Linked DNA regions of Homo sapiens: region 1 is reported to be linked to region 2. The links are microRNA targets in miRTarBase. Many come from high-throughput screens and were not tested one by one. Region 2 holds a microRNA gene; the other region holds the end of a gene's coding sequence.

Region 1 (7,429 bases), not on the chromosome of region 2:
TCCTTGGCCTCCCAAAGTGCTGAGATTACAGGCATGAGCCACTGTGCCCAGCCAGTGATTTATATTGTTTGAACTCTTCCAATGCATGATCCAATAATTCTAAGCCCTAGGTGATAACTCTTCTAACTCCTCCAACCACAAACAGACTTTCCCCACTGTTTGCAGATCCAGGGCAGCGACGCCGGCTGGACTTTGGGCTACATGCTGAACCTGACCAACATGATCCCAGCTGAGCAACCATTGTCCACACCTCTCTCCCACTCCACCTATGTCTTCCTCATGGTTCTATTCTCCCTGGTCCTTTTCACAGTGGCCATCATAGGCTTGCTTATCTTTCACAAGCCTTCATATTTCTGGAAAGATATGGTATAGCAAAAGCAGCTGAAATATGCTGGCTGGAGTGAGGAAAAAAATCGTCCAGGGAGCATTTTCCTCCATCGCAGTGTTCAAGGCCATCCTTCCCTGTCTGCCAGGGCCAGTCTTGACGAGTGTGAAGCTTCCTTGGCTTTTACTGAAGCCTTTCTTTTGGAGGTATTCAATATCCTTTGCCTCAAGGACTTCGGCAGATACTGTCTCTTTCATGAGTTTTTCCCAGCTACACCTTTCTCCTTTGTACTTTGTGCTTGTATAGGTTTTAAAGACCTGACACCTTTCATAATCTTTGCTTTATAAAAGAACAATATTGACTTTGTCTAGAAGAACTGAGAGTCTTGAGTCCTGTGATAGGAGGCTGAGCTGGCTGAAAGAAGAATCTCAGGAACTGGTTCAGTTGTACTCTTTAAGAACCCCTTTCTCTCTCCTGTTTGCCATCCATTAAGAAAGCCATATGATGCCTTTGGAGAAGGCAGACACACATTCCATTCCCAGCCTGCTCTGTGGGTAGGAGAATTTTCTACAGTAGGCAAATATGTGCTAAAGCCAAAGAGTTTTATAAGGAAATATATGTGCTCATGCAGTCAATACAGTTCTCAATCCCACCCAAAGCAGGTATGTCAATAAATCACATATTCCTAGGTGATACCCAAATGCTACAGAGTGGAACACTCAGACCTGAGATTTGCAAAAAGCAGATGTAAATATATGCATTCAAACATCAGGGCTTACTATGAGGTAGGTGGTATATACATGTCACAAATAAAAATACAGTTACAACTCAGGGTCACAAAAAATGCATCTTCCAATGCATATTTTTATTATGGTAAAATATACATAAATATAATTCACCATTTTAACATTTAATTCATATTAAATACGTACAAATCAGTGACATTTAGTACATTCACAGTGTTGTGCCACCATCACCACTATTTAGTTCCAGAACATTTGCATCATCAATACATTGTCTAGAGACAAGACTATCCTGGGTAGGCAGAAACCATAGATCTTTTGTGTTTACAGCTATGGAAACCAACTGTACCATAAAGATAGTTCACTGAGTTTTAAAGCCAAGCCACATCTTATTTTTCCAAGGTTTAATTTAGTGAGAGGGCAGCATTAGTGTGGAGTGGCATGCTTTTGCCCTATCGTGGAATTTACACATCAGAATGTGCAGGATCCAAGTCTGAAAGTGTTGCCACCCGTCACACAACATGGGCTTTGTTTGCTTATTCCATGAAGCAGCAGCTATAGACCTTACCATGGAAACATGAAGAGACCCTGCACCCCTTTCCTTAAGGATTGCTGCAAGAGTTACCTGTTGAGCAGGATTGACTGGTGATGTTTCATTCTGACCTTGTCCCAAGCTCTCCATCTCTAGATCTGGGGACTGACTGTTGAGCTGATGGGGAAAGAAAAGCTCTCACACAAACCGGAAGCCAAATGTCCCCTATCTCTTGAATGATCAAGTCACTTTTGACAACATCCAGGTGAATATAAAAACTTAATAAAGCTGTGGAAAGGAACTCTTAATCTTCTTTTCTGCTACTTAGGTTAAATTCACTAGATCTTGATTAGGAATCAAAATTCGAATTGGGACATGTTCAAATTCTTTCTTGTGGTAGTTGCCTATACTGTCATCGCTGCTGTTGGTTGAGCATTTGTGGTGTACCACGCTGTGTGCTCAAGGGTATTACATTCATCTTCTCATTTAATCCTCACAACAATCTGAAGAAGGTAGGTATTACAATTCCCACTTCATAGAAACAGAAACTGAGGTTCAGAGAGGTTAAGTCATTTGCCCAAATGGCTGAGCCAAAGCCTACCATGTACCTAACCTTTATTTTCTTTCCCGAACATACCAGGCTGTCTCCTCATAACTTCCAAGCATGCACTTAAAACTCCACATGAATACAAGGTTCATGGGACTTGGTATTCATAGAAAGGGAGGCAGAAAGCTGGTCTGTTCCTGATAGGCTTGTAATTTAATATCATTCTGTTCATGTGCTTTGGATGGAAGCACATCTGGCATATGATGCTAATCAGTGGTTCCCATACCCCTGGCTTCCTAATTTTAATGTTTGCTCACAGCATAGTAGATTGACATCAAATAGTGGCCGATGATGATGAAAATAAAGGTCAAATAAGTTGAGCCAATAACAGCCGCTTTTTTCCTTCTGTCTGCGTATACAAAGCACTGTCATGCACACAATCTATTCTGACCCTCACAACAACCCATAAGGGTGTAAATAGTATTTCCATTTTACAAATGAGGATCACACAAACTACTACATGGCAGAGCAGATACTCCAACTCATGTCTTCTGGTTGAAGCCTATTGCTTTTTCTTTTCTAAACACTTTCCCTCAGCAAGTTGGAATTAGACTTCACAAGTCTCCTTCAGAGAACACAAATCTTTTCTTATTCCATTCCTGTTTGGTTGCCTACGTCCAATCTCCCCCTCCCCAGAGATGCCAAAAAAAAAATCCTTTAAGGTATTTGGGAGCCAAACTCAACTTGTTAAAATCTCAAATTATGGAGACAATCAGCAGACACAACCTAACCCCAATTATTTTGGCAGGAAGGTTGGTTTAGAGGCAGATCCAGCAATCTGCTTTGGGCCACTCTGGGTGGGGTAGGTGAAATAAGATTGGTCACTGTTAACTAATTTTAATATTGGATTGGCCATTGGTTATCACTGATTACCATTCTCCCCTGGATTTTCACCCAGGACTCAAAACTTGGTTCTGCTAACCCTGTTCCTTTATGAGGAACCTTTTAAAGATTCCTTTATAAGGTGGGAGTTTTTTTTCTATGAACCTATAGGGGAGAAAAAAGATCAGCAGAAGTCATTACTTTTTTTTTTTTTTTTTTTTTTTTTTGAGAGAGAGTCTCACTCCATTGCCCAGGCTGGAGTGCAGTGGTGCTATCTCGGCTCACTGCAACCTCCGCCTCCTGGGTTCAAGCAATTCTCCTGCCTCAGCCTCCCGAGTAGCTGGGATTGCAGGTGCCCACCACCACACCCGGCTAATTTTTGTATTTTTAGTAAAGACAGGGTTTCACCATGTTGGCCAGGCTGGTCTCCAACTCCCAATCTCAGGTGATCCTATTGCCTCGGGCTCCCAAAGTGCTGGGATTACAGGAGTGAGCCACCATGCCTGGCCAGAAGTGGTTACTTCTGTAGACAAAAGAATAATGCTACTTAATCAGGCTTTCTGTGTGACAAGAAAGAGAAAGAAAATAAAGAAGTTTCAATTCATCCAATTCTTAATAAGAAATATGTAAATAAAATTTTTTAAAATTACACTTCATTTTAATGTTGTATCAGTCAAGGTCCCTGCAAGAGATGGATGGTATGGTACACTCAAACTGGGTAACACAGGAGAGTTTTCAGAAAGCAACTAAATCCAAAATACTATCAAGGAATCAATATAAAAATTGTTAATATTTTTCTCATACTAAATTTTCAAAATATTTTGTGTCTATTACATTTACAGCACATCTTAATTAGGACTAGCTGTGTGTTCACCTCACATGTGGCTTGTAGCTACCATACTGGACAGCACATGTCCAAAAAAATACACGTAAAGTTAAAGTTTAAAAGACACAGGAACTAAGCCCTCATTGTCTTTCCCTTGGGAGGTAGTTTAAAGAGCTATAGATGCTGTAACATTCTTGCTATTATTTATTATATATGACATTATTCCTAAAAAAGCTTTTGAGATCCTAGGTTGTATTCCTCAGGTTTTGTTGCCTTCCCATGAAGATGTGAAGGCAGGGATGCCTGTTATTCAGTCCAAGATGCATGACAAGAGACCTTGGGAAAGTTTCATCTGGATTTAAAGATTAATTCTTGATGCTTACATTCCATACTCAAAATGTAAATTTGAATATTAAAATAAAGATGATTTTTTTTTTGGAGCTAGTCTTGCTCTGTTGCCCAGGCTGGAATGCAGTGGCATGATCATGGCTCACTGCAGCCTCGACCTCCCAAGCTCAAGCAAGGCTACAGGTGTGCACCTAAGTAGCTAGGACTACAGGTGTGCACCACCATGTCTAGCTATTTTTTTTTCTGTAGAGACAGGGTTTTCCTATGTTGTCCAGGCTGGTCTCGAACTCCTGCCCTCAAGCAATCCTCCTGCCTTGGCCTCCCAAAGTGTTGAGATTACAGGCGTAAGCCACTGCACCTGGCCAAGATGAATATTTTAATAGCTCACAGAACAAAGTTTGCCACATAATGATAAAATTACTATGAAAATATATTCCCTTTATTGTCAGTTTAAAAGATGAACTGAGTTTCACCCAAACTGGTCTGGCCCCTCTCTGATTCAAATACCAATAGTTGCTCTGATTCAAATTCCAACTGTTAGAACATGACAGCTGCTCATAACTAGCTTTGCTTACTAACCATGTTTCTTTCCATTTGTATTAGGTCCTTTACTTTTTATAACAGCCTCAAAGTTTCATGAATTGCTGCAGTAAACATTGATTTTCATGTTTGTGAGTCTGCAAGCCAGCTGGGCAGCTCTACTTCAGGTGGTAAGGGTGGATCAGACCTATTCCATATACCTCTTGTTCTCCTTGTCCAGTGGTTTCTAGGGATATGTTCTCATGATGAACCCCGCAGAGGCTCGTGAAAGTGAGAGGAAACTAGGATGCCTCTTAAGGTCTTGGTCAGGATGGGGTCTCCTGTCACTTCTGTCACAGGCTATTGTAAGTCATATGAGCAAGCTCAATAAAATATAAACAAGTCAGATAAACAGTGGGAGGAATGGCAAAGTCATATGGCCAAGGCCATGAGTGATTAATTTTAACACAGGAAAAAAGTAAAGCATTAAATGCGATTATTTAATATACAATGTCTTATTAACTGAAATATAAAATGTGTTTACTGTAAAATATAATCTGTTTATCTCACCAAAGAAATATTATCTTTAAAAAATGTCATTACTTCTAAGACATCATCAGTCTGCAACTTCTTTCCATAGCCTTAATCAGGATGCTGTGGCAGCTCCCACATTAGCCTCGCATTCTAAACTGGTAGATGTCCTAGGAAACCATACATCTATGTATTTTTCTTATTTTATACGTTTAGGACAATGTATAGCTAATTACCCAACTTTTTATTTGCATACAAATCTAATACAACTGAACACAATCAGTTTTATCACAGGTATAATGGATTTTTCAATAGTGAGGAGGTGCCTCCATGAGCCTTCTCTTTAGAAAAGTGGCATTCAAGACTCTTCATTTGAAGTGAAGATTGCTATGTCTTTTGCATTGCTCTATTTTACATAAATTAAGTTATAAATTGACACTATAATCAACTGACACCATGATCAGTGATGATGATCACCCTCATCAGCACTAGAGTTGACTTGTTTTTATAACCCCTTTGCATGTATGTTGAATAGCAAAGTTCATCAGAGAACATGTATTAGTCAATGGTAAGTAAGATACTCTCATCTAAGAAATAACATCACCTCTTCTAATGAAGTTCTAAGAAGAGAGGGAAGAAAAAGTCTTGGGAGCTAGTCAGGGAATAGTGTGTATTTGCAATTACCTAAACTGAACTCTACCATTACTCCTAACCCAGTTCCTCCTCCTGTGTTTTACATGATTAATGCCACCCCTGCCTCAATGAACCAAGATCAGCTCCATCACTGGGACCTCCCCATTCTGCCTGTGCAATATTTTTCTTTTTTATTTCTCCTTCTAATATTACTGTTATTGCTCCAGTAAAGAGCTGTAATATATTTTACCTGGACTGATACCAGGAATGGTGGTGTTGCTTCCAATCTGTTGCTGCTAGATTAATCTTTGCAAAGCACAGGCTTAATTTCATTGCTGCTCAACTAAAACCACTGGTGGCTTTCCATTGCCTACAAAATAAAGTCAACCTCCCCATCAGACATTCAAGGCTTTCAATGATCCATGGCCGCCAGCTCTCTCCAGGCTCATATCCCACTCCACTCCTCTGATGTTTCCTACACTACACTACACTATACTACACTACAGCCAGGTAGAATGACTGTTCACCCAACACCACTCAGGTTGTCTTCTCAACTTGGAATACTCTTGCACCTTCAAAGCTCATTTCAAATGCCCCTTCATTTGTGAAGCCTTCTCCAAATTTCCAAGTCAGAATGTCTCTTCCTTGTGCTACCACAACCCTTTAACTGAGCCTCCATTAGTGCACTGAGACCATTCTGTTCAGTGTCTGGGTGAAGCTTCCTGGTGAAAAATATGTTACCTATTTCTTTCTGAAAAGTTGGATTCAGGGATATTATCACGGACCTAAGGTAATAGTTCTAGCCAACCTCCCTGTCCACTGCCAGGCCGACTACAAACCCTTCTGTTGCTGGCGAGCTGGTCCGCACCACTAGTTCTGCTTCACTCTATTTATCTCTTGATGTAACCATCTTCTTTCTCCAGGTTTTAAGAACCAGCCCAACTCCTGGTTCCCTGATGAAGCTTTTATTCCCCTAGCCACATGGAACTTTTCCTTTTTGGAACATGCCTTTAGTTTCTGTGTAGTTTGCCATGCAGCACTTCATTGTACACATTATTAAAACAGAATTTTAAGGATTAGAATGAACCTTAAAAGATCATGCATCTCAAAATTTAATGTACATACAAATTACCCAGGGATTTTGTTGAAATAAAAATTATTTAATTTTAATTAATATAAATAATTCAGTAGGTCTGGGGTGAGGCCTGAGGTTTTACATTTCCAACAAGCTGCCAGGTAAAGCCAATACATCTGTCCAGGAATCACACTTTGCGTATCAAAGGTCTAGATGACATTATCATTCCAAAGAGTTTCTTTTACAGGCTCTCAGATCAGTGTTCATCCACTACCTGACTACTGTCATTCACAGGCATTCTGTTCCACAGCAGGCCAGCTAACGTGGTATTTACAAAGCTCACTCCTCTTATACAACAATCCAAGTGTTTCTTTTGTCAGTTGTCTGTGCCCCAGGAGATCCCTCTCTGCCTTGCCTTGCCCTCTGCCTTTGGAGACCAGCACCTCATACTCAGTGAAGGCCTGGAGT
Region 2 (8,025 bases):
ACGGGATTGATTATAGTTAGTTTGGAGCTAGAGTGTCTTTGGGGAGATCTGCTATGGTAGATCATTTGATTTAAATGACTGAAATGTAAAAGTTTGAAAGTTTGTGTTTAACACTTAATGCATAATAGACATTGTGCTTTTCACATGCATGATTTCATTTAAGCCTACATCTTATGAAATATGAAATATATTCATCATTTTATTGATGAAGAAATTGAGGCTTAGAGGAAGATTAAGTAACTTTCCAAAGCTTCATGTGAGTGTACCCAAATGCTCTTCAAATAAGGCATTTCCCAGCACAGCTTTTCTTTAAGTGCCTTTGTAATGTTTATAGCTTTTTATTGTAACAGCAGGAAGGTTATACTACAATAGTTTATTCCAGTCCTAATGTTCTATGACTTTGTGTCTTTAGGCAGCAAGCAGGATTTTGAAGAACTGGGACTCAAAGCAAGGAGTCCTCTTGTAGATATACAGTGGCAGATAAAATGAATTGAACAGACACTTTTTTTTTTTTTTGAGATGGAGTCTCACTCTGTCACCCAGGCTGGAGGGCAGTGGCACGATCTTCGTTCACTGTGAACTCCACCTCCTGGGTTCAAGTGATTCTTCTGCCCCAGCCTCCTGAGTATCTGGGATTACAGGCACGCACCACCATGCCTAGCTAATTTTTGTATTTTTAGTAGAGACGAGGTTTCACTATGTTGGCCAGGGTAGTGTAGAACTCCTGACCTCAAGTGAACCACCCGCCTTGGCCTCCCAAAGTGTTGGAATTATAGGCGTGAGCCACTGTGCCTGGCCTGAAGAAACACTCTTGAATGTGTTCTACCTACATGGGAGCTCCGTGGAGCCACAAGCTCATTCCAGGTGTTAGGAGAAGAAATTTGTGTTGGCAGCACATACAACTTGAACAGAAAGTGAGGAGAAGAAATTTGTCTTGGCAGCACATACAACTTGAACAGAAAGTGGGGCAAAGCCAAATGGGTATTCTTACATGAGAATACTGTGTCCTAGGAGTCAGGAATGTTCCCTTTAGTGTCCTCATAATTTTCTTCCATTGTCTTTTTTTGGCAGATAGCTTCTGGAATTATAATTTGTACTTTGCAAAAGAAAATGGGCCATAAAAATTATTTTAAATCAACTAAAGACTCATGAGATTTATTTGGTTACAGTGAATAACCTGGACAAAATGTTGAGAAGAGTTGTTAAAACAAGTTTACATTAAATATACTAACAATTACGTTTGGTTACATATTTGTAAGTGATGGTTATTTAGAAAAACTGCATAGAAATCCAAACCTTAAATATTCTGCAAATCAAATCATTAGCTTTTCTCTTCTCTAATAAAGTAGGGTGACTAGTTCTTGGATTAATCTAACTATAACATTAATGTAGCACTTGATTATCTTATGGAATAATTCTCTATCTCATCTAAGCCTCACAACAACCTTGTAAAGTATTATCCCCATATGGAGGAAGAAACAGGCTTAGAAGTGGAAAGGTAGATTCTCTGCTCGCACAACCGTATTATGTGGCTAAGCTATTGAACTTGAACCTAGATTTGGGACTTCATTTCAAATATGAAATTTTTTGATTAAATCTTTTTATCTTGTATGGAAAAAATATCTCATTAGCTGTCAGATGTTATTTACCCTGCTAACTGTTAAAAATATTTCATTAAAAAAATTCAGCTTCATAGCCTTTCAGTTTCCCTTTAAGAGTCAAATAAAAGTATTAATTTTAAACTGAAGTTGCCTGAACAGAAAATCGTTACCTGGGGGAAAGTACCAGTTTCTAAATCTTTTAAAAAACGTTGCCAGACAATCCATGATATAACTGGAGGTTAGTAGTCCTTCTAATTTTTAACTACAAAAATATTATAGAAATTTGTGTTTAGCCCACATTTCTAACAGTTGAATCAAAGGTGTTTATGAACATTATAATGAACAAGCCAAAACCTGCAATTAAGAATGACATGAATATATTTTCTGTTAATGATAAAAACAAACATGGGCTTGACATTTAAATGAAAATGTTTGCATTTAGGATACTACTGATAAATCTTTTAAATAACCTTACTTTCAAAACTTAGTTTAAGGTTGAACATCCCAGTGACCAGATTATGATTAACAGATTGAAAAATGATAAAGCCTGAAGTCTAAGTTTATCCAGCAGGGTGACTCATGCTTCTTTGTCATCCTCCCACGGCAGCAATTTGTTCCATGTGAATGCTAGTAACAGGCATCATACACTGTTAATGCTAATATGTAGGAGTCAGTTGGAGGCAAAAACCCCTATCACGATTAGCATTAACAGCATACAGCCTACAGCAAGCCTTCAGCACTCAGAGGATGAGGCATAAAGAATTTAAACCACAGATTTCCCCTTCCTGGTTTGTGCCACCTGCAAGAGAGAAAGAAATGTTTGTGTATGCACATGCGGTTATAAAGCTGGAGTGACAGCATATAGTAAATCTGAAAGGAAAATAGTCCATTTTCTGTTGAAAGGAAGGAGCTCATTAAATCCTTGGAAGTAATTTTTTGAAAGTGGTAGAGAAATTGGCAATTAAAAGATGACATTGTTACCTTTAGGCATATTTGAAGACTTTGAAAATTATGTTTTAAATTCTATTCTCTAGTTTTGAATCGGGTACACATATGTATCATCTTCTTTAAATAAAAAACAAAAACCGCTCTTCGGAGTTTTCAAATGCCAAAATGCAAAGAGGAAAGCTTGCATTCTGACACAGTACAGTTTTTTTTTTTTCTGATTTGTACTTCATCTAGGAGCTAGACAATTAAAGGCCCAAATGTTCAAAATAGTCCTTTATGATTTATGAAAATTAAAACCCAATTAACCTGTTTTATAAGGGTAGGGTTCAGGCTGAATTTTTCTTTCTGTAATACATAGTTGAAGTTTTACCTTTATTCTTTCAGGAAATGTGATACAAGCAATGGAGGTTTGCCTACAAACGAATCTATCTGAAAATGTCCCCGTCTACTATTTAGAGATTCCTTTGGGGAAAGCACTACCCAGTGGCTTTGGTTTTGACTACATAAAGGAAGTATGACTTAAAGAGTCCTCTGTGTTTCAAACTACTTGTCTTAGGCAGAGGGTTGATTAAAAAAAAGAACAAGATGAATTTGCTACTTCCTTTTAGAGTCTGATTTTACTCTCTCAGATAAAGTGACATTTCTCCCACAGGTTTCTGATTTCAGTGTTACTATAACAGAACCTAGAAGTTAGAGTATCATTCAAGTATGTGGTCTCCTGCAGTACAAGAGGGGAATCACCTTTTCTTTTATTTAATAATGAAACCAGCTAGATATAAAAATGTGACTAAGTTCAAAAGAAACGTATGAAGTAAAAAATTCCCCAGTGAATATATTTTGACAGGGCAGAATATCGTGGTTTGGAAATTTCCAAACCAAGGAAATATATTATTCTTACTGATAGTATTTTTTTTTAAACTTTACTGTTTTCTGAGATGAATTAGTTGATGATGAAAAAATTTGGGTTAAATGATGTCACTTCAGGAATTCAATTCATTTTACAGAATTTCAGTCAATAAAGATTGTAAAAACAAGGACTTTTTTTCCCCCTTACAGGGTCCTGGACACAGTAAATGCTCAATAAATACATATTAATAATGTAGTGTTAGTGCCACCCCAGCCAATATAACTCGCCCTTTTCTTAAAAGATGTGTTTAATTTGTATTGAAGGTAAATTGCTGGCATACTATTCTACCCATAAATTTTATTCCTGTTCTTTAAAGATAACATATGAGCACAGGTATTAAAATAAATATATTTAGTATACTAATTAGCTTTTTCCCTCTTTTTAAATATACATACGAATTGCCTGATTAGAGCACTCAGAAAAGTGACAGTGTTTTTGATAATGTGTTATATATATTAAAAATTCTAATAGCTTTTTTTATTTGTTCAAACTCTAAATGTATATTGAAATAAAACATGTCACACAGGTCCCCTTTTGTTCTCAAACACAACCTTGTCATACAGGCATGATGAATTCCGAACACTGCAGAGAAATGAGAAGTTTGTCTAAATATACTATAGAACCTTAGGTCATATTTAAAACACAATGATAGATGAAAAACATTAATGAACAGAAGAAAGGAGAAATATCCCAGAAAAAAAAAAAAATATATATATATATATATATATTCTACAATTTAAAAATAGTAGACTTTTAAGGACATTAGAATGACTAGAAGGTCATTCATTCATCAGTGTGGAGTCTATGTCCACTTCCAGTGTTTTTGACTGGGCTAAGCAACCAACAACAGAATTGCTATATGCCTGAGTGGGAATTAGTGGTCATAGACAACAAAGGCCAGTCTATTAGCCAAGGCACTGGGCAGAGGGTGCTTTCATGAGGTAATAAGAAATAAAGTAGTTCTTTCTGGAATCGGTGTGGCCACCAGCTGGTAAAGTGGCAGGGGAAGAATTATACACAATTATAGGCCTGACAATCAGTAGTGACAGTGCTAACCAAGTAAGAATGTGACAAGCATAATGTTTAATGTATAGCAATGCAAGAGTAATTTATATGAATTATATATTAGAAATTAGACTGGGGTCTTTGACTAGGTAGTTCTGCAGATATACTTCCAGTCCCCTCACTCCACAATACTTCTTAGGCCTACCACATGAAATATCCATTGTCAGTATAAGTTTTACTGTGTAGCATAGGTTCCAAGTTAAATGTTCTTAACAAATTACTACACACTGTCTGAGTATCAAAATCATTCCTTCTCACAGTAGGTAAAAATCTACCAAGAGGAAGCACTATGTATACTAGATTAATGATAACACCAAGGATCTTTCATTATATGACAGGCAATTCTTCCTCTGGTGCTAAGAATGAAGCTGAAGGTGGCACTTTGGGAAATTTTTCCTTAAATTATGCTTTCCTGAAGGACAATTTTTTTGGGGGGGGTGGAGTGTGAGCATAAGATTTAAGAATATCTGGCTGGGTGTGGTGTCTCATGCCTGTAATCCTAGCATTTTGGGAGGCCGAGGTGGGCGGATCATGAGGTCAGGAGTTTGAGACCAGCGTGACCAACATGGTAAAACCCCGTCTCTACTAAAAATACAAAAAAATTAGCTAGGCGTGGTGGCGCACGCCTATAATCCCAGCTACTCAGGAGGCTGAGGCAGGAGGATCACTTGAACCTGGGAGGCAGAAGGTAGTAGTGAGCCGAGATTGTGCCACTGCACTCCAGCCTGGGCAACAGAGCAAGACTCTGTCTCCAAAGAAAAAAAAAGATTTCAGAATATCCTTTTATTCTTACCTTGTTGATTTGCCAGGAAAGACGTTATCAAAACTATATATTCAGAGCATAATATGTCCTAAGTTTGTCATTAAAGTTCTGGTTTTCCTTCAAAAATTTTTTATTGTGGTGAAATATGTAATGTAAACATAATGTAAGTTTAACATCTTCACCATTTTTAAGTGTACAGGTCCGCTATATTAAACACTTAGTCATAATGTTCTACAACTATCATTATCATCCATCTCCATAACTCTTTATCTTGTAAGGATCTCATTTTATGTCTAAATCATAGGTTATATTCTTCTACAATTATATATATTTCTATATTGCTGCTTATTCTCAGCACCAACCATTTAATATTTGCATACCAAAGGAACTGCACACCATAAAGTTTTCTTTAAAAAAAGTTACAGTGGTCGAATTTCATAACCAAAGCGATTGTGGGATAGCTCTAATTTTATTTACCTTGAAATATACAAATAATTTAAAACTATTAATTTGTTGTTACAAATCAACTGTACATCTATTTTTACTGAAAGTCATCTTATATTGATGTAGCAATACAAATTCTAGGTCCAAAGCCATTTTAGTAGGTGAAATGGAATGTAATTATGTTGTTGAAAATTAAAGTGATTTAGTTTAGGTAACTTTCTCTGCATATTTTCCCACTTTAACATTTATGTGTACCAATCAAAAACATAATCATTAAGATGGAATAATGTTGATTCCTATTTGGATCAGTTTGCTAAAAGCAATTAGCATATACTTGTATATGTGGAAACAGTATCTGCCTTTTCTATCAGAATTTATTCTGATTCTCTATATTCTGCCGCTGCAGTTTTGGTTTACATCATGGAAGTAAGCAGTGATTAATGCAAGTGTATAAAAATCAGGATTCTGTGAAACTTTGGACTTGTCATAATCTTTAGAATAACAACGATTTCTTGGTTACCTTTTGAGGTAGAATCAAAAGTTGAAAGCGGCTGCCAACTTGGTGCCCCAATGACCTGCCTTTATAAAAACTGCATCTGTCAGCGTGTTTCCCTTCCCTTTTACTTAAGATAGAATTCCTTACCATTAGAGCCATCTCCATTGGGTGGGAGAGCCAAGGTGACAGGTAAGGTCTCTGGTAGGTTGTTCTTGAAATGCAGACAAGTTATCTGGGGAAAAAGGGTTGGGGTTGAAGTTGACACATCACCTTAGATGTGTTTATTAGGTTAGTTAGTCATCTTTGAAAGCAGAGGTGAAGGGCTGAGGAGAGAGGACCCGGGATAGGTGGATTTTAATGGGAATAAAGAGTAATTTAGAGGAAAGATAAGGATGTACCCCAAATAGTTTGATAGCTCAATAGTTTTTTATTTATAATTTAAGCTCACACTTTTCATGTCCAGCATAAAGCAGCAACAAATTAAGTATTTAGACTATCATCTGAGTTTTAGTTCTCTGAGTTTCAACCTCTCTACATGCTGTAAAATGTCATATAAAGTGTTTAATTTCTCAGAAATTCTTCAGGAAGACTTGCAATGTTCTCTGACAAAAAGAAAATCCAAATGACTGCCTTTCTAAAGTGTATTCATTTGTGTAAAGTTTATCACATATTTTCTGTAGAATATGATTCTGTGTTACATCTCAATAACTGACATTAAAGATGAGTCAACTTCTCTGCTACCAGGGAATGAGGTAAAGAGTATTATGTTTCCTCTTGACTTCACATGAGTTCCATCATTAACAAGGGATTGATGGTGTGACTTACTACTGATTGAGATGGTGGCCAACTGGCGTCACATCTTCTGAAGTACACAAACTCATCTTTAAAGGTAAAAATGGATTGTTCTGTAGGAATAACTTATATCCTGAAATCTTGGTGAATGATAAGATTACCACTTTTCAGATCATTAACTTTACATATAAGAAAAATTCCCTGAGTAAGCCATTGCTGGGGGAAAAATTATAAACTTTTCATGTCATGATACTTTATTTATTTCCATAAAAACTTAACATCACTTCTTGATATTTTCTAATTGAGAGCTCTTTATTGAAAAATAGCAACTTTCTAAATTAAGAGCTCCTTATTGAAAATAGCAGTTTGTGCACACAATAGCATAACATTCTTTTCTGTATTTTGAGAATTAAGAAAATAAATGTTTTTAAAGATATATGCCAATAGTGATATTTAACACATAAAGGTGTGATGTATTTTTGAAGTGTCTTAGAAGAAAGCCAATGTGGATATTGCAGGGTCACTGTGGAAATGTGTATCAGTGACCGTTTAGTTGTAAATGCACAAAAGAGAAAGAATGTCAGCCTTAGAGGATTATCCTGCTTTTCCCAATTTTAGAACCAGGAAGTTTTTACTGAAATGGCTTTGTGGAACTTACTTACAAGCTAAGTAACCTTCCCAGTAGTTTTATTATGGACAGTAATTAGTGCTTTCGCTTTTCTGATGAAGATGTGTAAAAAAAAACAGGTTAGGAATTTCCTCTCCCCCACCAGACTCATTCTGTGGAATAAGCAGAAGCAGGACGACAGCCAGCTGGAGTCTGACTGCAGGGACTCGCTTCCTCAACACCCTGACCTCACACTGGCTCAGCGGAAGGTCTGAACTGTGCTGAAATGTTATAGAACAAATGTGAATAAAGCTGTGGGTAGGGAGGGGAGAGCTAGTGGGAGAGATACATTCTGTTGCTTTAAGTGATGGCCATTCTTTCTTATTTCTTGTTTCCACAAAA

The links. Region 2 holds the annotated microRNA hsa-miR-155-5p (UUAAUGCUAAUCGUGAUAGGGGUU, at 2,287-2,310, opposite strand). A microRNA usually pairs through its seed, bases 2 to 8, with sites in the 3' UTR of a target mRNA and lowers its output. Matches are read on the target gene's strand: a 7mer-m8 pairs with bases 2 to 8, a 7mer-A1 pairs with bases 2 to 7 and ends in A, and an 8mer does both.
Region 1: the mRNA of ENTPD1 is a reported target of hsa-miR-155-5p. Seed matches in the 3' UTR shown: 7mer-m8 at 1,491-1,497 and 8mer at 5,205-5,212.

What each region holds. Positions count from the first base shown.
Region 1 is chr10:95,866,012-95,873,440 of GRCh38, forward strand. It overlaps ENTPD1 (ectonucleoside triphosphate diphosphohydrolase 1), which reads left to right. Exons shown (of 10, transcript NM_001776.6): 10 at 166-7,429. The coding sequence ends at 372. All of the region lies in intron 3 of ENTPD1-AS1 (ENTPD1 antisense RNA 1), which reads right to left. Among named protein-coding and RNA genes, the nearest start is that of CC2D2B, 38 kb to the right of the region's middle.
Region 2 is chr21:25,568,268-25,576,292 of GRCh38, reverse strand. It overlaps MIR155 (microRNA 155), which reads right to left and starts at 2,313; the gene lies at 2,249-2,313. It overlaps MIR155HG (MIR155 host gene), which reads right to left. Exons shown (of 3, transcript NR_001458.3): 2 at 6,372-6,456; 3 at 1,125-2,400. RefSeq lists enhancers at 47-96, 489-638 and silencers at 2,190-2,369, 7,029-7,078.